Linked DNA regions of Homo sapiens. The protein of the gene in region 1 purifies or fractionates together with the protein of each later gene. This does not show direct contact. Each region holds a gene or a part of one and is shown in the gene's direction. Other genes may lie near its edges.

Region 1 (3,500 bases):
GGCCTTGGCCTCCCAAAGGTGCTGGGATTACAGGCATGAGCCACTGCACCCAGCCTAATTTTTGTTTTTTAAATCTCGGAGTTGGACTGAGGGTATTATTTTGCTGCACCTGAGATAAGTGGTTTAAAACATAACCAGCCGATGGCTGAGCCCCTTTGAGTTTCCCCTTTACCTCCTTACTAGCTCCCTCCTTTTTATGGCCTCTTCTCCCAGCCCAAGGCAACCAGCCTGCCTCCCTGCCTAGGTGCATAGAACGTGGATCCCTTATGTGCTCTTTCCATCAATTCCTTGCTCTCCATCAAGTCACCTGCTCCAGGAATGTGTATCCATGTGTGTGCTTTAGGTGAGCTTAAGCACACCTTTCAGCCCACAAAAGAGTTTTTGAGGAAAATCAGGGTAACAAACACAACCCAATCTCTACCAGAGTCTACTATGGCACCTTCAACCCCATTAGGCCATAAACATAAAGGGAAGGGTCCCTGGAAGGCGCAAAGTAACTCCACAATCTGAGGAGAGACACACACCTGTGTATCTTACCCTTCTGAGATCAGGAAGTAAAGCCAGTGTTTGGGGCAGGTTGACACAAGTCTGTCTCTCAAGAAGGTTTTAGGAGAAGAGTCACTCCTCTGAGTTCTCTGAGACCCACTGGAGACCCAGCACACACAATACGACCCCATGTCCTGTTGTTCCTAAGTCATGGTAACCTCCGGGGCCACAATTAACCAACACGGAAAGATGGAGCTTCCCTTTGCTTCCTGTCAGGTGGGAGAGGAGGGCTCTGGGCACGGAAGCTTTGCAGGTGAGCTCTAATGATGGGACACCCAGCTCTCTATGGAAGTCCTAAGACTGAAATCACTGCTTGTAGTCTTACAAATAATGTTTTTCATTTATAAAAATAATAGTTTTTAAAAATATTAATTGTATGCCAGGCACGATGCTGAATATGTTATGGGAATTATTTCATTTTTTCTTACAATAATTATAAAGTTTAATTGCTTTATCCTCATATTACAGCTAAGAAACAATCTTAGAGACATACATGGTTTGCCAAAAATCAGGAAGAAATGGTGATGTTTACCTTCTAATCTACATCTATCTAACTTAACAGTGCAAGTCCTTAATTACTTATGTGTGACTTTGTCAGCTCATTCATCTCTATTTTTCTCATCTTTAAAGTGAACAGGTTGAATTTAATCTCTAATGTAGTGTCCAGTTCTAAGAGATTAGATATAACTTAGCATATTTGAGAAATGAGATAGTGCATTAATTGAATATGCTGATTGAAAGAGGATTATGTGGTATGATGATGAGATTATCAGGTTTCAAGGAATCAGTGTATAATTCAGTGTACTTCACGCTCCAGAAGGGAATTAATTTTTCAGTGGATATTCAGAAGGCATTCAGAACATACAAACAATAACCAAAACAAAACAAAGCAATACATTTCAGCACAAAATTGTCTGGAAGGCTGTGTACAAAACCGTATAGAAAAAGGAGGTTAACTACTGCATGTTCACACTTATAAGGGGGAGCTGATTGGTGAGAACACATGGATGCATGGCAGGGAACAACACACACTGGACACCTGTTGGGGGATGGGGGAGGGAGAGCATCAGGAAGAACAGCTAATGGATGCTGGGCTTAACACCTGGGTGATGGGATGACCTGTGCAGTAAGCCACCATGGCACATGTTTACCTATGTAACAAACCTGCACATCCTGCACATGTACCCCGGAACTTAAAATTGAAAGAAAAAAAAAGTGGGTTAGGCATAGTGGCTCCCAAGGAGCTTGTATTCTAGTAGAACATCAATTATTAACAAACAGGGCTGCATGATTTTTTTAGCACTTTAAACTTTAGTTTTACTTGGATTCTGGACAAAAGGAGTTTTGTCTGTATCTGTAATGCATCAAATTAATTGAATCTCCATACTTACATTTTGCTTCCTTCAGTCTCCATTGAAGTCAATTTTAGCTCTTAATTACCTATGTCAGGCAGGGCAAGCCAGTTTAAGATCTAATATGTGCACAGGTCACACACGGACAGGGAATAAAATCCTCATATGGATAAAGGAGATGAGGAAACAGTCTGTTTTATTAAGTAATTTACCGTAAGCCATGTGGATGCAGAAACAGCCCCAAACTAATCCCTAGTCCATTTTTTCTGATTCTTGTCTTCAGACTTTAATAGATACATAGGAGAGGAAAATAATATTGTTTTAGGTAAAATTACAGGACAAAGCAAACAAAATGCTGGAAATAACTGGGAGTCAACTGTTACCTGGAATGGAAGGTAATAATCTGAAAATTCAAATTGTGTTGACAGGGACTTTCCTCTCTACAAAGGTAGCTGGCAGTTTTCGGCCAATGACATAATGGGATGTTAACGCCTTTGGCCAGTGACTCTATGCAGAGAACCAACAATTTTATGCTTGTGTTTCTATTATAAATGATCACACCTTATGCAAAACCATTCTTATCATTTAACAGAAAAGGACGACACTTAATTTAGAATAGAGAAAAAATGGCACGGGCAGGGCCTGATGAGAATGGAAAATGTAATATAGCTTGGGCCCAGGAAAGCCCTCAGAGAACATCTTTCCCCACTTTGCACAGTGAGAGAATTAGACCCCTTTTTTACATTCATCATTGTTTCACAATTTGTACTTTGCCGACTTCCCCAATTATTGATCTTAAAATGTTAATTTTAATTTTCAAAATTATTTGAGGACATTCAACTGGTGTGTGTCTATAACTCCACCTATGTGGAGCATTGGGGAAATAAAATATAGCGGCTGGACCAGACTTACAAGGTACTATAAAGTCCACCTAGAGGAAAGCTTCTTCAAATATCATTACCAAAAGTCCACATGAGACATGTTTTTAAACCCCTCCCTATTACCACGTCAGAGGGTGGGGATGGCTCCAACGCCTTCAAGTCTCACAGGTCTGTGCACCTCTGCTCACGCTGCAGGGTCTTCCAGGCACTTAATGCAAACTATTTTGTTCAACTCTGAAACATTATGATTTTGGTAGTTGTATAGCAAATTTACAGTTTAAGAAACTGAGGCATTAAGAAGTAGTTTAAGACAGATTAAGAAGTAGTTTAAAATCATACAGAATTGAAGTGTTAGAAGAAAAACTTTAGACAGACTAAATTTAGCAGAGTCTAACTGAGAAAAGGATGACTCATAAACAAGCCATCCCTCAGAATCAGAACGGTTTCAGAGAATTCAAAGCAGCAATTTGGTCAGACAGCATTTATGGACAGAAAATGGAAATGAGGTACAGAAAACAGAAGTGAGGTACAGAGACAGCTCTATTGGTTGCAGCCTGGCGTTTGCCGATTTGAACAGGGTTTCAACAGTTGGCTGCCTGCAACTAACAGAAGTGCAGCAGCTGCTACTCAGCTATTTATTACAAAAGTGTACTCCTAAGTTAGCCTTAGCTCCTAAGTTAGGCTTATTCATAAAATAATTTTGCAATTAAAACTCTCAGAA
Region 2 (3,500 bases), on another chromosome or scaffold:
GTTTATTGCTGGTTGTAAGGTGAGCCCTGAGGGTAGAGCTGTGTCTTCAAGTTTTGAAGTCTCATTACAGGGCGTGTAGTGACAGTATAGCCTTTAGTTCCATTTAGTTTCTTTTCCAGAGCAGACAAGTACCCAGGACCTGCTTGACTTTAGCGATATTTTAGTTGAGGCCCAGGATTTCATTCTGCTTGAAGTTCAGAGGATCTTCTGGTCAGCTAAGCGGGGAGGAGCTGCCATTACAGAGCTCCGTGTCAGGTACTGGGATTTACCTGCGTTCTTTTATTTAATCCTCTCAACAACCTGTGTGAACTAGACACTATTATTTCTACTCTACAGCTAGAAAACTGAGGCTCAGAGAGGCTAAGGAATGTTCACAGGCTCACACAGCAAGTAGACATCAGAATGATGTTTCAATTTCAAGTCATCTGACTCCAAAACAAATACTGGCGGTGGGGCCGGAGGGAGGAACTCTCAGGCCAGTTAGTGAGTATCTCAGTGAGGAAAGGTCTCTCCCTGCTCTCAGCCTCTTACAGGATGCTCTGTCTTCTTGGCCTCTTTCACATGAGCGCATATACGCATAATGCCACTGCTAATATTGCTCTGTTTTCTCCTTGATATCGGCTTATGTTTTAATTTAGCACATGCAGATTTGTCTTTTCAACTAACAGGATTTTGTGTCAACATTTCCCACTTGCCACCTAAGCAGGGTTCCCATTTTTTAAAGCACAATGATGCTTTTCATCATTTTGCTCCATCACGGTTTCCTTAGCCATTCCCCACCCTCTATCAGGGATCTAGGTTGTTTCTAGTTTCTCCCACTCTAAAAATTGGCACTACCAACGTGAATGTTCAATTTGCTGATGTTTATTTATTTCTGATCTCATGTTCTGCTTTGGAAATACACTTCCCAGCCATGTGATTACCAGGTCAAAAGCAAGAGCTGTAATAAGAGTGGTCCGTGCTGCTCATGGGGTCTTCAGAGAAATTGCACTTGGGAGGCCCAGACAAGGGGGACCCAGAAACAGAACAGGTGCTTGTTTTCTGCCTACCCTTCCTTTCCTCACTAGTTACTGTTCTTTCCTGAGGCTCAGATTGGAGGAACTTGATACCTCACTCTTAGCAAGGGGTGTGAGAGGTACTGTTCGAGTGGTGACTTTCTGAGTTCCAGAGAGGGAAGTTATTTCAGTGTCCACAGAGGTCTCTTGGAGTGGAAGGTCTTGGCTGCTTCTGAGATTGCGCTGCTGTGCGTTAGTGGTCCTGTGTGGGCATTGCTATGCAGTCATTCACTCAGGCATCCAGTGCTTTCTGAGCCCCTACTGTGCATCAGGTGGCAGTGCCATGCACTGTAAAGTGTGTGAATTCCAGACCTGACTCTGCATGTGTGGCTTTGGGTAGATTAATCTCTTTAAGCTTCAGTTTCCTCATGTATGAAATGGGCTAACAATCTCTGTACATGCCGTAGGAATTAGAGGAGAGAGCATAGGTAAGGTGTCTGCTCAAGCCTACAATGCATGAAGGGCCAACTGTTGTGCAGGTGAACACTAGAACTTCTTTCTTCTTACAGATGAAGAAGGTGTATTCTTGCCTGGGAGTGTGAGAGGCGGGGAGTAATAGTATACTTACAGCCTTAGCAGCGGGCAGGTGAGAGGAAAATCACTGTGATAAACATGCCGTAGAGAGGCTGGGGGACCCAGACAGGCATCAGATTCAGATTGGTGGGAATTCAGAAAGACCTGGGGTGGGATCTGCCTCCCAACAGGAGGAAACAAGGTTGGGGGAGAGGGAAGAGGGAGAAAGGAAGTAGAAGCCTGTTGTGTTTTATGGGAGGGCTACATTCTTGAAGACCTCGCGGTATTCAGATCTCTCATAATTCAGACTTTTCCCCCTACAGAATAAATGTGGAGCGTGCATTTACTTGATATGGTCTCAAAACACATAGCTTTGCTTTGCTGTTGCTTCTCATATGGTCGCACTCTCTCTCACATTGCACAGTGGGCTCACTCATAAATTACCCACTTGGTATCTCGTGATGCTTTTTTGGCTTTCTCAGTTGCCAAGCTGGTGGTCGTGGTTGTTGCTGTTATCATCACCATCATCATCATCTCTGTGTGTTTTCAGTCTGACACCAGCACCACCATTTGACAGACTGTCAAGATTGGGGGTCCGCATATTTTCTTGGAAAGGGCCAAACATTAATATTTTGACTTTGCAGGCTATGTGGTCTTTGTTGCAACTAATCAGCTTTGCCTTTTGAGTGCAAAAGAAGCCATAGACAATAGATAAATGAACAGGCAGGACTGTGTTCCAGTGAAACTGACTTATGGGCACTGCAATTTTAATTTCATATAATTTTTATATGCCATAAAATGTTCTTTTCTTGATTTTTATTCAATCATTTGAAAATGTGGCAAAAACAGGCAGAGGGTCAGGTTTAACCTGTGGGCCAGAGTTTGTGGACCCCTGGTCTAGACGCTTACAATATTTGAAAATTGTTTTAAATTGTAGGAAGAGTGAATGTTAAAATATCCTGATAGTCAACAAAATCATTCACGGACATTCCAGTGCTCATAAGAAAAATGCTTAATTCACAAGTTCTGTCAAAAGATTGGGGTATTTATCAGCTTGAATGGTACCAACATAGGCGGTTCCTTTAATACAATTTTAAATTATTTAGGTAGTTATTCTAGTGAATTAAAAATTTTAAATCATATTATTTCAAAATTTTGGTACCCAATAACCTTATTAATATTGTTATTGTCATTCTATTTCGTGACTTAAATTGTGTACCCTGGCTAGGCACGGTGGCTCATGCCTGTAATCCCGGCACTTTGGGAGGCCGGGATGAGAAGATCGCTTGAGCCCAGGAGTTCGAGACCAGCCTGGGCAACAAAGTGAGACTCCATCTCTACAAAACATCAAACTATTAGCCAGGCATGGTGGTGTGCACCTGTGGTCCCAGCTGGTGGTGTGCACCTGTGGTCCCAGCTACATATATGGGAGGCTAAAGTAGGAGAATTGCTTGAGCCCAGGAGTTTTGAGGCTGCAGTGAGCCATGTTCATGCAACTGCAATCCAACCTGGGTGACAGAGTGAGACCCAGCCAGAAAGAGAAGAGAAGAGGAGAGAAGGTGAAGAGGAAGGGGAAAGGGAAGGAGAAAGGAAGGCAAGGAAAGGGAAAGGAAAAGAAAAGAGAAAAGAGAAGAAAAGAAAAAATTTTATACCCTACACTGGTTTATTATTGTGTACTCTCCTGGAGTCCAGCAGCTCTGCCTGACTCCCAACAGCCTGCTGGCTGGAGTTTGGAACTTGATTCTAGCTGGAATTTTTTTATTGTAAAAGGCAGGCGAGAGCATAGACGGAGCACCAAGGCTTGTGTCTGGCACACAGTGAATGTGGAATAAACTTTTGCTCCCTCTTTTCCCTTTTCTTTCCTCCTCACTCAAAAGTTCTGTATATTTGGTCAGATCCAAAACATGCTGAGCCTCTTTGAAATTGTTACTT
Region 3 (3,500 bases), on another chromosome or scaffold:
TGGCTTGACTGTGTTCTAGACTTCCTCTGCCTGGCCTGTAAAGTTGGAGGGGTGGGGGGCTGTCACAGAAACCACTCTCCTTTCTTGTCCCTACAGAAGAATGTGACTCTGCAATGTGTGTTCTGGGTTGAAGACCCCACATGTGAGTATGCAGGGGTCTCTGGGCTGGACAAGTATCTGGAAGAGAAATAGAGTCCTGGGGGGTGGGGGAGGTGGGGTTAATCACCGAGGGCTTCCTGGAGAAAGGAGGACTTTGAAGAGAGAGCGATGGCAGGCTATGAGTAGGCCGGGTGGAAGAATGACACAGTCGTGCTTTTGGGGGTGGACACAGTGGGGTCCTGGAGGACTGGACTTGATTGGAGCCCCGTGCTGTCCCCTCCTCAGTGAGCAGCCCGGGGCATTGGAGCAGTGCTGGGTGTGAGACCGTCAGGAGAGAAACCCAAACATCCTGCTTCTGCAACCACTTGACCTACTTTGCAGTGCTGATGGTGAGGGTCCCTGCTCCCACCTCGCAGCCACACCCCAGGCCGTGTGCTTGTTCTGTGCAAGCACTTTTCATATATTCAGTCATTTATTCCTCATAACAGCTCTCCAAGGTAGCTTCTATTGTTGTCCCATTTTATAGATGAGGAAATGGAGGCTCAGAGAGGTTAAGCAATTTACCCGTGGCCACACAGCTAGTCAGTGAAAGAGCTGGTTTGTAGAGCCCCTGCTCTTTATTCCCAAATTTTGGTGTGTACGAAAATGCAGATTCCTGGCCCTCACCTAGGGTTCTGATTTGGCAGTGATGGGGCCAAGAGTGTTTCTAATGAGGCCCCTGAGGTGGCCTCCAGTGCCCCCAAGACCTCAGAATTCATGCTCCCAGGACTGTAGGATTCTGCCTGTGGGTATCCACCTGGGGCTTGAACACCCCTGGGTGTGGGAATCTCATTCCCTCACAGGAAACCTATTCCCATGTTAAATGTTATAGAAGAATAATCAATGCCAGGACAGAATAGGGGTTCTCTCATGAAGGGTTCTTGGCCTCTGTGGGTCAGGAAGCCGCTTGAGAATGTGGTCAAATCTAAAGATGCCCCCACTCCAGAAAAATGCACTTATGGGACCACATTCTGCTCAGTTGGGAGAGGGGGTTCTTAGGCTTCCGAGGCCCACCAGGGACCCCAGGTTAGCCCCTCACGCAGGGCAAGCCTCCAGGTTGTGTGGGGGACACAGAGGCCAGCTCTCTCCTGTCTCCTGGGGCCAGGTCTCCTCGGTGGAGGTGGACGCCGTGCACAAGCACTACCTGAGCCTCCTCTCCTACGTGGGCTGTGTCGTCTCTGCCCTGGCCTGCCTTGTCACCATTGCCGCCTACCTCTGCTCCAGGTGAGGCCTGAAAGGGGTGGGACAGGGGAGGGGACCCTCCATTGCACACACCTCCACCAGGGCGCCGCACACATCTCCGGTCATGGCCCGCCCGCATGACCTGGAACTGTGTGTGTGGTTAGGGGAGCTGTTTGGGGTAAGCTGACCCTTGGGGGCCACGTCTCCTCCTCAGATCAGTGGTGTTTGGATAACATAGTATTTACAAATTTTAGCTGTCGACATTGTATTTATTTATTTTTATTTTTATTTTATTATTATTATTTTTTTGAGACAGAGCCTTGCCTCTGTCGCCCAGGCTGGAGTGTAGTAGCATGATCTCGGCTCACTGCAACCTCTGCCTCCCGGGTTCAAGTGATTCTTGTGCCTCAGCCTCCTGAGTAGTTGGGACTACTGGCGCCTGCCACCACACCTGGCTAATCTGTATATTTTTAGTAGAGACGGGGTTTCACCATGTTGCTCAGGCTGGTCTCGAACTCCTGACCTCAAGTGATCCACCCACCTCAGCCCCCCGAAGCGCTGGGATTACAGGCATGAGTCACTGTGCCAGGCTAATTGTCAACATTTAAAATTGAGAGAGTCCACCTAAGAATCTGTTTCTTTCCTAGAGTAAGACAGGAAAGCAAAATAAAAAACTTAAAAAAGGAAAGATTTTTCATTTCTGCCTTTGAATAAGCAGATTTGTGAGAGCACTGGGTGGACACAATAATATCACAGCGGTAATGATCATACTTAACGTGTGTCAAACTTCCCGTGTGCCATGCACTGTTCTAAGTGTTTTACATGTGTGAACTCAATTCATCCTCACAACAGCCCTATGAAGGAACACTCAGAGAGGGTAAGTGACTTGCTTGAGGTCACACAGCAAGGAAGTGGCAGAGGTCAGATTGTCAGTGCTTGGCTTGGCCTAAATTGGGGTCCACTTGCCCTCAGCGCTGAACCCATTTGGGTAGAGGAGAGGCACCCTCGGTTCTCACTGTCCCCAGCCACGAGGAAGGAGAGGAAAGTGAAGCTGTATTTATGCGTGTGCACAAGCACGTGTGTGCCTATATGACTGTCCTGTGTGTGCACAGCTGTGTACCTGGGGAGCTAAGTAGGTGATGGTGATGAGGAAGGACAGCTGGGTGATGAGATGGGCTCGGCGGAAGGCTGGGGGTGGAGGCAGAAGTCCTCAACACCCAGTTGCTCACAAACATGCCCAAGGACACAGCACAGGAACCCTTAGGAACTGAGCACCTTATCTGTGTCAGATGCTTTGTGTCAGTGTAACTCTCACCCCAACCCTATGAGGGTACCATCCTCCCACTTCACAGATAGGCAAACTGAGAGTCTCAAGGGGAGGGGACCAGCTGAAGATGGTGCCATGAGTTAGGGGCAGGGCAGGGTGGGACTCCAGGATGGTGACACTGGGGCCTGCATGTTCTGCTGCACCCTCTAGGGCCATGTAGAATCCTGGAGTGGGGGTGGGGTGGGGTGTGCACACATTGACTTGCAAACCTCAGACAGACCGATGCGGGCAGCCCACACTCAGACTCACAGGTGCACAGTTGTGCAGACAGACGGGAAGACACAGAATGTGGATGGCATGGATTCTCCAACATGGTGAAAATGCCAAAGTGTTTCCGCTCTGACTTTGAGAGTATCTGGTTTATTACTGTGGTTGTCTTCCTCGCTCTGCCTGGCTGAGGCTTCTGTTAAACGTGCACGTGGTGCCTGAGTCTGTGGGTGCTGGGCACACAGTAGGTGCACAGGGGGATGTGGGGAACAGTTTGGCTGCAGCCACAGGAATAGGATAGGGGCCATGTATGACTGCATGTGTGTGTCGGGGTGGGGGGCAGTCTGGGAAGGCTTCCTGGAGGAGATGTGGGCACACTCCCCTCTCTACCTTCCCACACTGGCCCACCAGGGTGCCCCTGCCGTGCAGGAGGAAACCTCGGGACTACACCATCAAGGTGCACATGAACCTGCTGCTGGCCGTCTTCCTGCTGGACACGAGCTTCCTGCTCAGCGAGCCGGTGGCCCTGACAGGCTCTGAGGCTGGCTGCCGAGCCAGTGCCATCTTCCTGCACTTCTCCCTGCTCACCTGCCTTTCCTGGATGGGCCTCGAGGGGTACAACCTCTACCGACTCGTGGTGGAGGTC
Region 4 (3,500 bases), on another chromosome or scaffold:
TTGGGAGGCCGAGATGGGCAGATTGCCTGAGCCCAGGAGTTCGAGACCAGCCTGGGCAACATGGTGAAACCCTGTCTCTTCTAAAATATGAAAAAAATCAGCTGGGCGGGGTGGTGGGAGGCTGAGGCACGAGAATTGCTTGAACCCGGGAGGCAGAGGCTGCAGTGAGCCAAGACTGTGCCACTGCACTCCAGGCTGGACAACAAAGTGAAACTCTGTCTCAAAAAACAAAAACAAAACAAACAAACAAAAAGACTTCCTTATCTATTTGAATTCAACTTTGATTAATGTTTGATCCTATTTATAAACTTAGACCATGAAATTCCCCTAAGTATTTTAAATGGAATTAATATATGTCATGTAGTTGATTTTTTGTTTTGTATTTCAATTGTTCGGCTAGCAAACAGACCTTCCAAGCATTTAAGCAGTGCTTGTACATCTAGTAAATTAAGCTAAGAATATGAAGCATCTTTAATTCTCTAGATTTTAATATACTTTGTGAGCTTAGTAACATTTTTTTATTCCTCTTAAGATAAACTTTTTGAAAAAATATTTGGGAACTAGGCCAGGCGTGGTGGCTCACGCCTGTAATCCCAGCACTTTGGGAGGCCGAGGCAGGTGAATCACCTGAGGTCAGGAGTTCAAAACCAGCCTGGCCAACATGGTGAAGCCCCGTCTCTACTAAAAATACAAAAATTAGCCGGGTGTGGTGGCACATGTGTGCCTGTAATCCCAGCTACTCGGGAGGTTGAAGCAAGAGAATTCCTTGAACCCAGGAGGCGGAGGTTGCAGTGAGCCGAGATGACACCACTGCATTCCAGCCTGGGCGACAAGAGCGGAAGTGTGTCTCAAAAAAAAACACAAAAAACAACAAAAAACAAAAAACAACTAATATTAAAGAGCACAGTCTAAAGTGTAGGGCTGGAATGAATGAATGAGCCCACTAGGCAAGCAAAGGCTTTCAGGGCAGGTGTCCCTCCGTCCCACGAGCCAGGCCTCCGCAGGCTGAGTACTGAGTGCTGTCTGTCTGACCAGGACGTCATCCACTCGGGCAGCGCCCTCCTGGCCCCAGCCACCAGGGCGGCGTGGGAGCAGATCCAGCGGAGCGAGGGCGGCACGGCACAGCTGCTCCGGCGCCTCGAGGGCTACTTCAGCAACGTGGCACGCAACGTGCGGCGGACGTACCTGCGGCCCTTCGTCATCGTCACCGCCAACATGAGTAAGGCGCTGGCTGCGTTGGGGGTGGAACCCTGCTACCATCAGGGGTGTGCCCCAGAGCTAGGCCCCCATGGGGTGAAGCAGGTGGGCTCCCGGCCCCCCCTTGGCCATGCTCTTAGAAAAATGATTGTGAGGCCGGGCACAGTGGCTCATACCTGTAATCCCAGCACTTTGGGAGATCGGGACAGGCAGACCACATGAGGTCAGGAGTTGGAGACCAGCCTGGGCAAAATGGTGAAACCCCATCTCTACTAAAAATACAAAAAGTAGCCAGGTGTGGTGGTGCATGCCTGTAATCCCAGCTACTCAGGAGGCTGAGGAAGGAGAATCACTTGAACCTGGGAGGCAGAGGTTGCAGTGAGCTGAGATTGCGCCATTGCACTCCAGCATGGGTGACAGAGCGAGACTCCATCTCAAAAAAAAAAAAGCCGGGCGCGGTGGCTCACGCCTGTAATCCCAGCAATTTGGGAGGCCAAGGTGGGCGGATCACAGGGTCAGGAGATCAAGACCATCCTGGCTAACATGGTGAAACCCCGTCTCTACTAAAAATACAAAAAAGTAGCCGGTCGTGGTGGTGGGCGTTTGTAGTCCCAGCTACTCGGGAGGCTGAGGCAGGAGAATGGCGTGAACCCGGGAAGCGGAGCTTGCAGTGAGCCGAGATCATGCCACTGCACTCCAGCCTGGGCGAGAGAGCCAGACTCCGTCTCAAAAAAAAAAAAAAAAAAAAATATTCGGCAGGTAGGCCTCTGTTTCCTCATCTGTAAATGGAGCCTTTGGGAAGACAGTCTGTGATGACGTACCCGTGGCTCCCAGGGGACAGGTCCCGGGCTAGGGAGATGTTGGGCCATGATCTTGGGGGTCCGGCAGGGCTTCCAAACCCTCAGGTGTGAGACTCTAGAAGGGTGGGTGTCGAGGACCCCGCCTCACTCCAGGCTCACTGTAGACAGGTGTAAGTACAGGCGGGATGCAGGAAGTTGGAAGTCAGTTCTGTTCTAAAGATGGTCAGTCAGCTGGGCGTGGTAGTTCACACCTGTAATCCCAGCACTGGGAGGCTGAGATGGGCAGATTGCTTGAGCCCAGGAGTTCGAAACCAGCCAGGCGCCATAGTGAGACCCTGTCTCTATTAAAAATAAAAAATAAAAATTAGCCAGGTGTGGTAGCATGCTCCTGTATTCCCAGCTACTTGAGGCTGAGGTGGGAGGATCGCTTGAGCGCAGGAGGACGAGGCTACAGTGAGCTGAGATTGTGCTACTGCACTCCAGCCTGGGTGATAGAGTGAGATCCTGTCTCAAAAATAAATATAAGTAAATAGGCTGGGCGTGGTGGCTCATGCCTGTAATCCCAGCACTTTGGAAAGCCGGGGCATGCAAATTACTTGAGGTCAGGAGTTTGAGACCAGCCTGGCCGACATGATGAAATCCCATCTCTACCAAAAATACAAAAAATTAGCCAGGCGTGGTGGTGCCTGCCTGTAATCCCAGCTACTTGGGAGGCTGAGGCAGGAGATATTGCTTGAATCTGGGAGGCGGAGGTTGCAGTGAGCTGAGATTGCGCTACTGCACTCCAGCCTGGGAGACACTGCGAGACTCCACCTCAAAAATAAATAAATAAATATGGCCAGCCAGCGTCAGTGTGACAGTTGTGGTCATTTTGAAAACAGCAGGGGTTCAAGAAAGCCCTGGGAGTTATGTCTGATTAAAGGAACTGTCCCCCCAGTTCTTGCTGTCGACATCTTTGACAAGTTCAACTTTACGGGAGCCAGGGTCCCGCGATTCGACACCATCCATGAAGAGTTCCCCAGGGAGCTGGAGTCCTCCGTCTCCTTCCCAGCCGACTTCTTCAGACCACCTGAAGAAAAAGGTAAAACCGCTTAGAAACCTGCTGCTGCCCTCGGAGTCCCCAGCGTTCAGGGAGGGGAGGGCCCCGCTGCGGGCATCGCAGGACCTGCGCACTGAAGATCTGGGCCAGAGTGTTCCGAGTGCTCTCTGGTGCCAGGTCCTGTTGGTGACAGCAGGTTGTTTTGTTCAAGTGCTCAGGTACAGGCTGAACATCCTAATCCTGAAATCTGAAATGCCCCAGAACCTGAACCTTCTTGAGCACCAACCTGACACTTAAAGGAAATGCTCATTGGAGCGTAAGCATGAAACAATAAAAAAATCAAAATCCAGGCCAGGCGCGGCGGCTCACGCCTGTAATCCCAGCACTTTGGGAGGCCGAGGCGGGCAGATCACCTGAGGTCAGGAGTTCGAGACCAGCCTGGCCAACGTGGTAAAACCCCGTCT
Region 5 (3,500 bases), on another chromosome or scaffold:
TTTGAGCTAGGCCTTGGAGGAAATATTTTTCGGAGCTGGGAATGGAATTCCAGATTCAAGGACATTCCAAGAAGGAGAATAGTATCAACACATGGCACATTGTGGAAATGCGTGGTGTGTGCTGGGAAACATAAGTGATTTAAGATCTGGGAGTGACATGTTCACACTTTTTAATGTAACACTTTTTAGATGAGTCTTTTTTTGTTTTTGTGTATTCATACAATGAGTGTGTGTGGCAAGGTGAGGGGCACAGAGAAATAACACTGGGCTTTGCCCTCAAGAAATTTTCAGTTTCACTAGAAAGTTATGGCGATTAGAATTGTCTGGGAAACAATATAGATGTTTAAAAATTTAATGTGTATTCCCTCTGGTTATAAAAATATGATTCTCATTGAGAAAATTATCCTAATAGTTTTCTGCGTGGGTTATGATTTTGTAACAAGGAAGCAAAATGTTTTAGTCTGCTTTTATCTTTTAGAAGAGTTATTTGAAAGGCATTTAGGATCATGGGATGCTAAGATTGTAGGTGGCATGTCTGTACATATGGATAAAGTCAGTCTTGATTTCCTGTCTGAGGAGGTTTCTGACTGGTAATGCTTCCCTGGGCAATGAGGCACAATCGAATGCCGTCTCTTCCATGAAACCTTTCCACCTCCTACAAAGAAGTAGTTTTTCTATCCTCTCAGTTCCCATAGCTTATTTTGTTGTTGTTTGATGACAACTTGTATATTTTCTTCAATATGGTGCTAGTGTTTTTTTGTTTTGTTTTGTTTTGTTTTTGAGACGGAGTCTCGCTCTGTCACCCAGGCTGGAGTGCAGTGGTGCAATCTCGGCTCATTGCAACCTCTGCCTACTGGGTTCAAATGATTCTCCTGCCTCAGCCTCCCAAGTAGCTGGGACTACAGGCACCTGCCACCACGCCTGGCCAATTTTTGTATTTTTAGTAGAGACGGGGTTTTACCACGTTGGCCAGGATTGTCTCGATCTTTTGACTTCGTGATCCACCTGCCTCTGCCTCCCAAAGTGCTGGGATTACAGGCGTGAGCCACCGCGCCCAGCCCTAATGTAGTGCTAGTTTTGTAGTTGTCTGATATTCTACATTGGAAGCATTTTTAGATGTTTTAATCTCTATATCCCCCACGTGCCTTATACATTTTAGGCATTCTGTAATAATTTCTTGAATGACCTGTGTTTCCTTTTTTGGTGGATACAGTATTGAGAAACTGCCTTGGGAATAGAGAAGGTCACATACTTTTTCAAGAAACATTTGTAAAGTATTCTTTTGCTGTATTCATCCTCCTAAGAATCCTGTGAGAGAGATCATCTCCCACTTTACAGATGAGGCAACTGAGGCTTAAAGGAATCATATAGCTCAGAACTGCAAGAAACTTTGAATGTCATTTCATCTATGATTAGTGTCTGTCTGTAGAGGCAGGAGGGTGACAGAATGGTATAGATAAATAAGCCCTGTATAGATAGATAAGGCAGGAGTTTGTGGACAGATCCAGAGAGCATGCTTCTCTTATTCACCCAGCTTTCTCATGAACCTTTAGCTTATTTTATTTTATTTTTTATTAGAGGGGACTCAGAACAAGAGCCTTTAGCTTTTAATGTTAAGGTTGAGGAGAGGAAAGAAGGAAAAGGAGAAGTTACACAAAAAAGTTACGTATGAGCTGATTCTATTTTTGTGTACAAGACAAAAATCTTACGGTAGCAAGTGAAAAAAAGACAAGACTGGCTTAAGCAGGAAAAAACTGGAAGGGACATTTATAGCTCCCCTAGTTGGGAAGTTCAAGAGTAAATATGGCCCCAGACACACCTGGATACAGGGCCTCAGGCAGCATCTCCAAGGCCTTTCTCTTTGGCTATCTCTTGGCTCTTCTGCATAGTCGGCTCCATTGTCAGGTAATGTCCCTTCTCCTACTGATAAGATAACTAGAAGAGAAAAAGTTCTTTCCTGGTAGCTCCAGCAAAAGTTCAAAGATGAACTTTGATTGGGTCTTGGGCCTATCCCTAATTACATCTCCGTGGTCAAAAGAATGCTATGGTTGGCCAGGCTTGGTGGGGGTTGGGAAGTAGGATAGAGTCATCCAGTACCCCTGGGCCACTTAGAAAGCTTAAGAAATGGTTTTGGAAAGGAACTTCAGTATTTTACAAGAAGTAGAGGGATTGGGTGCCGGATGGACCAAAATAGCAGTGCCCACTGCACATGGCCTAAGTGTGTAGCCCACATATGGTTCTGTTATTCCAATGAATAATAGAGTCATTCTTTACTTCACTTATGCTTCTGGCTTGAGTGGCAGTGGCAGAAGCTGTGGTGTGGCAGGGAAGGGGTTATCTCACCTTCAGATTGGAGGAGATATGGATTGTTTGAATTTGAACCTTCAGTGAAGAGTTGACTAAAATGGTCCTTTTTATGTGGCTTTGGATCCTACAGAGTGAGACACTTGGTTCTCTGGTTTTCACTTGAATGACATTTGACATTTGTAGGACAGAAAACTTTATTTCATTAGTATAAATGAGAAATTATGATCCACTCAGAGTGATCCAGGCTATTTTTATCTATAGTCTCCAGAATGGAAACTTGGCTTATTCAGCACTGGCTATCTCTGATGGTTAATGAAAGAAGGAAAAAAAAAAAACTCGGCCGGAAGTTCACATGGAAGTCATGATTGCATTAGCATTGTTGGTACTCACCTTGAGGGAGAAGAAGATGAGAAAAGTTAGATAATTGTAAAAGTTCATTAGGTACAATGGGCACAGCTTCCTGTGGTCCTTTGAGCTGAGGGATGAGCAACTGTTCTCCTAACAGGAAGTATTTGCCACAGGAAAGCTTTTTCTTTAAGTCTTTTATGAAATCTCTTATTAGAGCCTCTTAATCATTTTAAGACTGCTCTTGAAACTTTTGTCTGATGTCTTCAATTTTTCTACTTCTTTGTAGAGCTGCTTAAAATGTTGATTTCTCCTTTTAGGACTGGGTTATCTTGTGTCCCAGCACTTAGAGTATAGTGAGAATAATGGACAACCTAGTTCGGTCCTTGACCTACATCTGTTAGACAGGTTTCACTGTGATGTTGACATGTTATGCATGTCTAGAACTGTTATAAATTAAATAGCATTTTTATAATTATGCATAATTCAAATGATAAATTCCTCATTACAGTCATGACCTCATTCAATTGGTAAAGATTTTTGTGTCTGCTGTGGACCATGCACCATGCTAGGCAGTGGGGATATAGAAATAAAAGATTCATTTCTGGTCCTCAAAGAGCCTAGGTTCTAGGGAAGATGAAAACACAGAATTAAGATACTTTGGGTGGGATGCGGTGGCTCATGCCTGTAAGCCCAGCACTTTGGGAGGCTGAAGCAGGAGTATCACTTGAACTCAGAAGTTGGAGACTAGCCTGGGCAACATAACAAGACCTCGTGTCTACTAAAAAAAAAAATTAGCAGGGTGTGTTGGTGTTCACCTGTAGTGCCAGCTGCGTAGAGGCTGAGGT
Region 6 (3,500 bases), on another chromosome or scaffold:
GAGTAAACATTGGAATTGAAGGGGTGAACATATTTCTGTAGGACCACAGAGGAAGAAAAAATCATTAAGGGGTAAACATATTTCTGTAGGACCATAGAGGAAGAAAAAATCATTCTGGCTGAAACCTCATGAAGAAGGTGACATTTGAGTTGAACCAAAGAAAAAAAAAAAAGAATGTCTGCACTTGGAAGTGCAGAAGGGCATTTCAGATGAAAGGACTGGTTTGAACAAAGGCAAAGAGACAGGAAATTATAAGGTTTTGTTGGAGGTTGTGGAAAGGCTGGGTGCGGTGGCTCATGCCTATAATCCCAGCACTTTGGGAGGCCGAGGTGGGTGGATCACTTGAGGTCAGGAGTTTGATACCAGCCTGGGCAACATGGTGAAACCCCGTCTCTACAAAAAATACAAAAAGCCAGATGTGGTGATGTGCACCTGTAATTCTAGCTACTTGGGTGGCTAAAGCACGAGAATTGCTTGAACCTGGGGAGGTGGAGGTTGCAGCGAGCTGTGCCACTGCACTCCAGCCTGGGTGACAGAGCAAGACTCCGTCTCCAAAAAACGAAAAAAAAAAAAAAAAGGGAGAAGAAACGTTGTGGAAAAAGATGCTGGAAAAGTTTGGATCCTGATGCAGAAGAAGTTGTATGTCCAAACTGTCTGAGGGTCATAAGAGTGACTGAAGGAAATAAGCAGCAGACACACAGGACACAAGTGCCTTTAATATTGGTGAAGGATGTAAGAGATTCATTGCCTGAAGACACTTTCATAGATTAGGGGACATACTCAGTTGAAGTAGTATCTTAAGGACATGAACTTGGATGCAGAGGCCAGGATGGTTTGGAGTGGGGATTCCAGAGGAGTAGGATGGGAGATCAGTCAGGAGACTACAGCAACAGCTTATTTATCCCCTCAGGCCTGGGGACCTTGATCATTCCTGGATGGTTTATCTTTTATTCTTACTATTTTTTAGGCTGAATCCATTTTGCAAGGGTACCTGGATGATTCAGGATACAGTATCCAGGACCTGAAGAGCTTTCATTTGGTAGGACTTGGTGCAACCCTGTGTGCTATAAACATCACTGAAATCCCACTTATAAAGATCTCAGAATTCAGGTAACTAAAATATGAATGTGCAAAATGGCAAATGGGTTAATTCATCCATCCATCCATCCATCCATCCATCCATCCATCCATCCATCCATCCAGATATTCCACCTCCTGACACTTGGCACCTTTCTGGGCTAAAATCCCACTGGGCTAATGGGATAAGCTGGATCTGCTGTCCCTGCTGAGCCTACTGTGCAGTGTGTGTGTGTATGTGTGTGTGTGTGTGTGTGTGTTTGTTTGTTTTTGGCTGAAGAGTCCAAGCTCATATTATATCCCTCCCTCTTTAACCACTACCAGGGTGGTAGTGGCCAGAATTGGGACCCTGCTCTGCAGCACACATGTCTTAGCCGAGTTTAAGAGGAAGGCTGAAGTTGTGTTTGGGGATCCCACTGAGTGGACCAGTTCTGTCTTGCAGGAGCTTGGGACCATTGCAGGTAAGACTCACCCTGAGCATACCTTTCTCTCTCTTTCCAAACTTAAATGTGGGGACACAAAATAAAACATTATCCTTGGCCATGTGTAGCAAACATCAGTGGCGTTACAGTAGAACCTACATTTCATGATTTGAAGTTGCAGAGGGTGGGTCTGCAAATCTGCTTTTAAAACAAGCTCTTTTGGAGATTCTTGTGTACACTAAAGTTTGGAAAACCGCTAGTTTAGAATGTGATTTAATTGGCCCCTAAGTAGGTTTATACAAAATTTGAAAGTGTGTAAATTGAAGTTCCTTCTGGGCATGCGTTTCACTGTAGGAGGCCAATCAGGGCTAATGTGACCCACATTTTTTTTTTCTGAGTTGATGAAGGAACTTGATTCCCCAGTGTGATTTCCAGGGCCTTTTGTAAGGAATGATGCCTGCCTAGAACACTCAGATCTGAACATTATGCAGCACCATTAATAAAACAAGCGGAGTTCTGATGGCTTGAACTAAACCCCCGTGATTCCTTTTTCTCCCCAGCTGGATTAACTAAGGCAGAGCTCCGGATGCTTGACAAGGATTTGATGCCATATTTCCAGCCATCAGCAATAAAATGCCTTCCTGATGAGATATTCAAAGTAGGTGCTCAGTTCTTCAAGGAGAAATGGGAGCTTGACCCCATTTCAAATCACACAGGGAAACAGGTGATGGGCCTTGGAATTTAGAGGCTTGTGACCAGGCTCTGCTGATGGGGTCAGAGGAGATCTGTGTGAGTTTAGGTGTTTTTAAAAAACATTTTTCTTAAAATTACAATATGTAGTTTAATTATATTTATTTTTACGGTCATCTTCTCTTCTTCTAGCAGGTGGTACTGATTTTCTACTTATGGTGGTATGACAGGTTCATAAACCCTTACGAAAACCCCTGGGGACAGATATAGTTCAGAATTCAGAATTTCTCAGATTTTGAAAAGATCACCCTGTACATTTACTGTATGTAACTTCATACCCCCAGCAGTGTCTGGGGAAGCACCTTGTAAGCAAACACATTAATATTTCTGTGAAGAAATCTGTGACAAGCCACACTAATTGGAATAAATAGAGACTATAAATAAATAGCCTCACATTACTTCAGGTCAAGTTTTGCTGATAAATAAGTTTGACTTAAACTTTGGGGGAAAACTTGCAGTTTTCAGATTATTTTTGGACTTTGGAATTGCAGATGAGGGATTGTGGACCTCTGTAACATTTCCTTTTAAGATATAATTAAATAAAAATATTTTAGTTGATTTAGGTCAGGCATGGTGGCTCACACCTGTAATCCCAACATTTTGGGAGGCTGAGACAGGCCAATCACCTGAGGTCAGGAGTCTGAGACCAGCCTGGCCAATGTGGTGAAACCCCATCTCTATGAAAAATACAAAATTAGCTGGGCGTGGTGGTGGATGCCTGTAATCCCAGTTACTTGGGAGGCTGAGGCAGGAGAATCACTTGAACCCGGGAGACAGAGGTTGCAATGAGCCAAGACCACACCATTGCACTCCAGCCTGGGCAACAAGAGCGAAACCATCTCTCTCTCTCTATATATATATATTTTTTTCTATATATATATATTTTTAGTTGATTTAAAGAAAAGTATTAGGAAAATCACAAGAGGACAGGTGAAAAACTGCTATGAAAAAATTGAGAGGGTGAAATTGGATCATTTGAAGGAAGGGAAGCAGGGTATCTAATGACAGGTCCTTTTTTTCTGTCTGTATACAAGATTAGGGGAGTGTTTGGTGGGAATAGTCTGCTCTGATGAGGAGGCAGTCATTCTGGTGTTCCTGTTTGCTGCGTAATGTGGGAACACATTTTGTCCAGCACTTCTGGATAAAACACACAAACCAGGCTCGACAAACTCCCCCAGTGCCACATCACTTGTTCATTTCAAGAAAGATAGCTGAGGCCGGGTGCAGTGGCTCACACCTGTAATCCCAGCA
Region 7 (3,500 bases), on another chromosome or scaffold:
GAGATGTTGAATTTAAGTTCAGTGACATTCTCCAGCCACACTCAGGCCTGGCCTCAGGTTTATCCCGGATATGTCTGCCTTTGCCCTTTGCCAAAGCTGCTCCATCTGCCAGAAAGCCCCTCTGTTCTTTCTCAGCTTCCAGTCTCAGGCCCAGAAGCTCAGGTGGCTCTTCCCTTCTCCACCAAGTGCTGATGCCCCATCCTAGTGGCTGCATCCCTGCATCAGAGCTACCAGCGAGTCTGTGGGTCGAGTCTCCTACCCAGAGTGTCGGGTGCTGCAGGTAGCATGGCTTAGGACATGGGACCAGTCCTAAAGAGCTGATGGTCCCCAAGTACTGCGTGTTTACAGCATCAGGCCTGTCGTGGTGCCAGTTACTGTCCCACACTGAGGTCCTTAGGTTGTATTTTGGGGTGGTAAAGTACCCCAAAGACACCTCTACCAAAAAACACAAGCCTTGAAGATGCTTCTCCCTTTGAGGTCTTCACTTTCTGTTGAAAGTGTCTCGGACACAGGTAGCATATTTTATATTTTAGTGATTCCCAGTCGAATAGCAACCCATCCCCATCACATGCCTGACAGGAGCTATGGAACTATGCTTATTGAGTACTGAGTGAGTATCCAGAGTCTCAGAAATGAGACTACATACGCACTTGTGTACAAGGTGTTTAAGGCAGCCTTTTCTAGAATAATGAAAAAAATGCAAACAGCCTAACCTCAAACCATAGAGATTATGGGGATGAAAGAAATCCATTTGTGGAATACTATGCAGCCATCAAAAGTCATGTTCCTAAGCCCATTTAAAAATATAGAAAGCTGTTTATAGTCTTAAGCTTACAAAGCAAGTCGTGAAATGGAGTGTCTGATGTGATCCCAGTATTCTTAAAGATTTGTGTAGAAAAGAGACTTGGTGAGGGGGCAGATGCTCGCATAGTTAAATATGGCCTTTGTTGTTTATTGTCTTTTCAAACTTTTGTATTTTTCAAGCATTTCACATTGAATGTTTGTTACTTTATCATGAGCAAAAAAGCATGTGGATTTTTTATTAAATAAAAACCATTGCAAAGTCTATGACACTAGCAGAACCAACCTGCTGGAGAGGGGCTCGTCAGGTGGCGCTGACTGCCGGTTCAGGTTCAGGGAAGGAGGCTTTGCAGGAGGCCTCCTAACCCTCCCTGTGACCTCCCTTGGGGAGCCGAGGCCCCACTCGCCATCTGCAGCCAGAGTGCACTTGCTGGCAGGCGTCTGTCTGTGTGCAGCCTTGCAGACCAAGTTTGTTTCCCATCTGACCTGACCTTGTACCCGATGCCCTTCATGACACATCAGGGTACACCTGTACAGAGTGGGAGGTGAGCGGGCCCATGAGGGCCCTCTCCCCTGCACCATGGCCTTGGGTAAGTCACTCCCCTTCTCTGAGTCTGCCCTTCACCTTGTGAGATGGGAGGAGTGTGGTTCTCCTTTTTCACAAGGGGGTTGGAGGACAAAAGAGAGTGTGTGGGTGGAAGCACTGGTGTGCAAATTACTATTAGATCATGCTGTATAAAACTATAGTTATTTCCTCATCTTCAGCTGCCTGTTGACACCTTCTAGCCATGCACTGAGACCTGCTGCACACCAGGGCCTGTGCCAAGCACCAAAGAGCCAGACAGGAACATACTGAGGTCCTGGCCTGGAGGCCTTCACAGCCATGGGGGACCAGCAGGCAGGGGGACAGATAGGCAGCTCAGGCCCCAGGACAAGGGCTGCAGAGGAAGGTTGCACACGTGGGTCTCCTTCATACTGGGAGAGAAGGCCCTCAAGGAAGGGGTAGGGGCAGCCTGGGCTCTGGAGAGAACTCTTTCATGGGCCATCCCCATGGGGCTGGAACTGCTGAGGGATTTTAATTTATGCAGGACCCTTTGCTGTGCTAGCAATGACCTGTTAGAAAATGCAATGAAGAGGGCCTCCATTTCACAATAGTAACTTAAAAAACAAAAACTGCCACGGCATAATTTTAATAAGAAGCACACGGGACCCATTTGATGCGAGCGGCAGTGTTTCATAGGGCTCTAAAGAAAGCCTGCATTGCCGGACTCTGTGCTACAGGCCCCCCCTCCGGCCTTGCAGCCCTGAGTGGTCTGAACCATGCTGGCCAGGGAGACTGCGACTGCACAGGCAGGACTCACAGCACACATCTCCTTTTGCTTTCAGAAGTGACCGGGGAGGTGCGTCCTCATCATGGGAAGGAGGCTGTGGATCCGCGGCAGGGGCGGGCCAGAGGAGGCGACCCTTCGCACTTCCACGCGGTGAACGTGGCGCAGCCCGTTCGCTTCAGCAGTAAGTTGCAGACCTGCCCTGACTGGGACACTGGGGAGTGCAAGCCTGACATGACCCCTGCCTTTCCAGCACTACTGTGCTGCGTGAGGGGTTTCTCAAAGCAGCCCTTGGAGGCCAGTGAGGGGAATGAATGAGGCTGCATGATGACCCACCCGCAGTCACCCAGCGCTGGAGTGGTGGTATGTGACTCAAGGCCCTAGGAAGTCAACCGGCTCTGAGGCCAGGCTGCTTGTTCTCACAAAGTGACTGCTTTTCAGGGCCAGAAGGCACTGGCCCTTGGAAATTCCAAAGTTGTATTATTCCCTTTTATAAATGAGGAAACCAGCTCTGAGTTTAGATACAGCAATAAAATGGGAAGGCTCGACTCCTTATTTATTTATTTATTTATTTATTTATTTATTTATTTAGAGACGGAGTCTCACGCTTGTCACCCAGGCTGGAGTGCAGTGGCATAATCTCAGCTTACTGAAACCTCTGCCTTCCAGGTTAAGTGATTCTCCTGTCTTAGCCTCCCGAGTAGCTGGGATTACAGGCACGTGCCATCACGCCCGGCTAATTTTTGTATTTTTAGTAGAGACCGGGTTTCACCACCTTGACCAGGCTGGTCTCGAACTCCTGACCTGAGGTGATCCACCCACCTCAGCCTCCCAAAGTGCTAGGATTACAGGCATGAGCCACTGTGTCCAGCCATTTTAAGAAAAATTTTTAAGGTGATTAGTTATTTAATAAATTACCTATGACATTGAAATTTTAAAGGGGCATGAGATCATCAAGGAAGGTTGAGGGGAGGAAAAGCCACCACTGAAATGGCCCTGAGCAGACCCTCTCAGGCGCGAGGTACCCAAGTACGCTGAGCAGCGGCTGTGGACCAGGCAGGACTGATACTGGATGGGCCTGCTGCCCTGCCTTGGGCCTGTCTGCTTGTGTTACTCCTCAGCCCCCAGACTTTCAGCACTGGGGAGCACCTCAGAGGTGACCAGGTCTGCTTCTGGCAGAACCCCCACCAACCCTGGGTGGCCAGAGTGGGGCCAGGTGTTTCCAGGTGGTCACGCATGTTGGTGCGGCTGAAGCAGGGCTGGACATGTCCTGGTGATGCACTTTGTCTCCGGCCTGTGCCCACAGCCCGAACGGGTCCCCACAGTGCAAGTGTGGTGCACAGGCTTGGTGTGTGAAGACACTGAGGCTGA

Evidence for each region.
Region 2: the proteins of BTNL2 (region 1) and THSD4 purify together in Homo sapiens (affinity purification with mass spectrometry; one large-scale study listed by BioGRID and IntAct). This does not show direct contact.
Region 3: the proteins of BTNL2 (region 1) and ADGRG1 purify together in Homo sapiens (affinity purification with mass spectrometry; one large-scale study listed by BioGRID and IntAct). This does not show direct contact.
Region 4: the proteins of BTNL2 (region 1) and CELSR1 purify together in Homo sapiens (affinity purification with mass spectrometry; one large-scale study listed by BioGRID and IntAct). This does not show direct contact.
Region 5: the proteins of BTNL2 (region 1) and SUMF1 purify together in Homo sapiens (affinity purification with mass spectrometry; one large-scale study listed by BioGRID and IntAct). This does not show direct contact.
Region 6: the proteins of BTNL2 (region 1) and OTOA purify together in Homo sapiens (affinity purification with mass spectrometry; one large-scale study listed by BioGRID and IntAct). This does not show direct contact.
Region 7: the proteins of BTNL2 (region 1) and DGCR2 purify together in Homo sapiens (affinity purification with mass spectrometry; one large-scale study listed by BioGRID and IntAct). This does not show direct contact.

What each region holds. Positions count from the first base shown.
Region 1 is NC_000006.12:32,397,182-32,400,681, reverse strand, and holds part of BTNL2 (butyrophilin-like protein 2 precursor), read left to right. Parts: intron 1-3,500. UniProt on the Homo sapiens protein: Negative regulator of T-cell proliferation.
Region 2 is NC_000015.10:71,121,971-71,125,470, forward strand, and holds part of THSD4 (thrombospondin type-1 domain-containing protein 4 isoform 1 precursor), read left to right. Parts: intron 1-3,500. UniProt on the Homo sapiens protein: Promotes FBN1 matrix assembly.
Region 3 is NC_000016.10:57,656,130-57,659,629, forward strand, and holds part of ADGRG1 (adhesion G-protein coupled receptor G1 isoform b precursor), read left to right. Parts: intron 1-96; coding exon 97-142; intron 143-384; coding exon 385-488; intron 489-1,243; coding exon 1,244-1,362; intron 1,363-3,265; coding exon of another isoform or gene 3,266-3,283; coding exon 3,284-3,500. UniProt on the Homo sapiens protein: Adhesion G-protein coupled receptor (aGPCR) for steroid hormone 17alpha-hydroxypregnenolone (17-OH), which is involved in cell adhesion and cell-cell interactions.
Region 4 is NC_000022.11:46,384,121-46,387,620, reverse strand, and holds part of CELSR1 (cadherin EGF LAG seven-pass G-type receptor 1 isoform 1 precursor), read left to right. Parts: intron 1-1,035; coding exon 1,036-1,219; intron 1,220-2,934; coding exon 2,935-3,078; intron 3,079-3,500. UniProt on the Homo sapiens protein: Receptor that may have an important role in cell/cell signaling during nervous system formation.
Region 5 is NC_000003.12:4,460,770-4,464,269, reverse strand, and holds part of SUMF1 (formylglycine-generating enzyme isoform 1 precursor), read left to right. Parts: intron 1-3,500.
Region 6 is NC_000016.10:21,750,968-21,754,467, forward strand, and holds part of OTOA (otoancorin isoform 1 precursor), read left to right. Parts: intron 1-967; coding exon 968-1,110; intron 1,111-1,401; coding exon 1,402-1,538; intron 1,539-2,059; coding exon 2,060-2,157; intron 2,158-3,500. UniProt on the Homo sapiens protein: May act as an adhesion molecule.
Region 7 is NC_000022.11:19,066,913-19,070,412, reverse strand, and holds part of DGCR2 (integral membrane protein DGCR2/IDD isoform 1 precursor), read left to right. Parts: intron 1-2,187; coding exon 2,188-2,313; intron 2,314-3,500. UniProt on the Homo sapiens protein: Putative adhesion receptor, that could be involved in cell-cell or cell-matrix interactions required for normal cell differentiation and migration.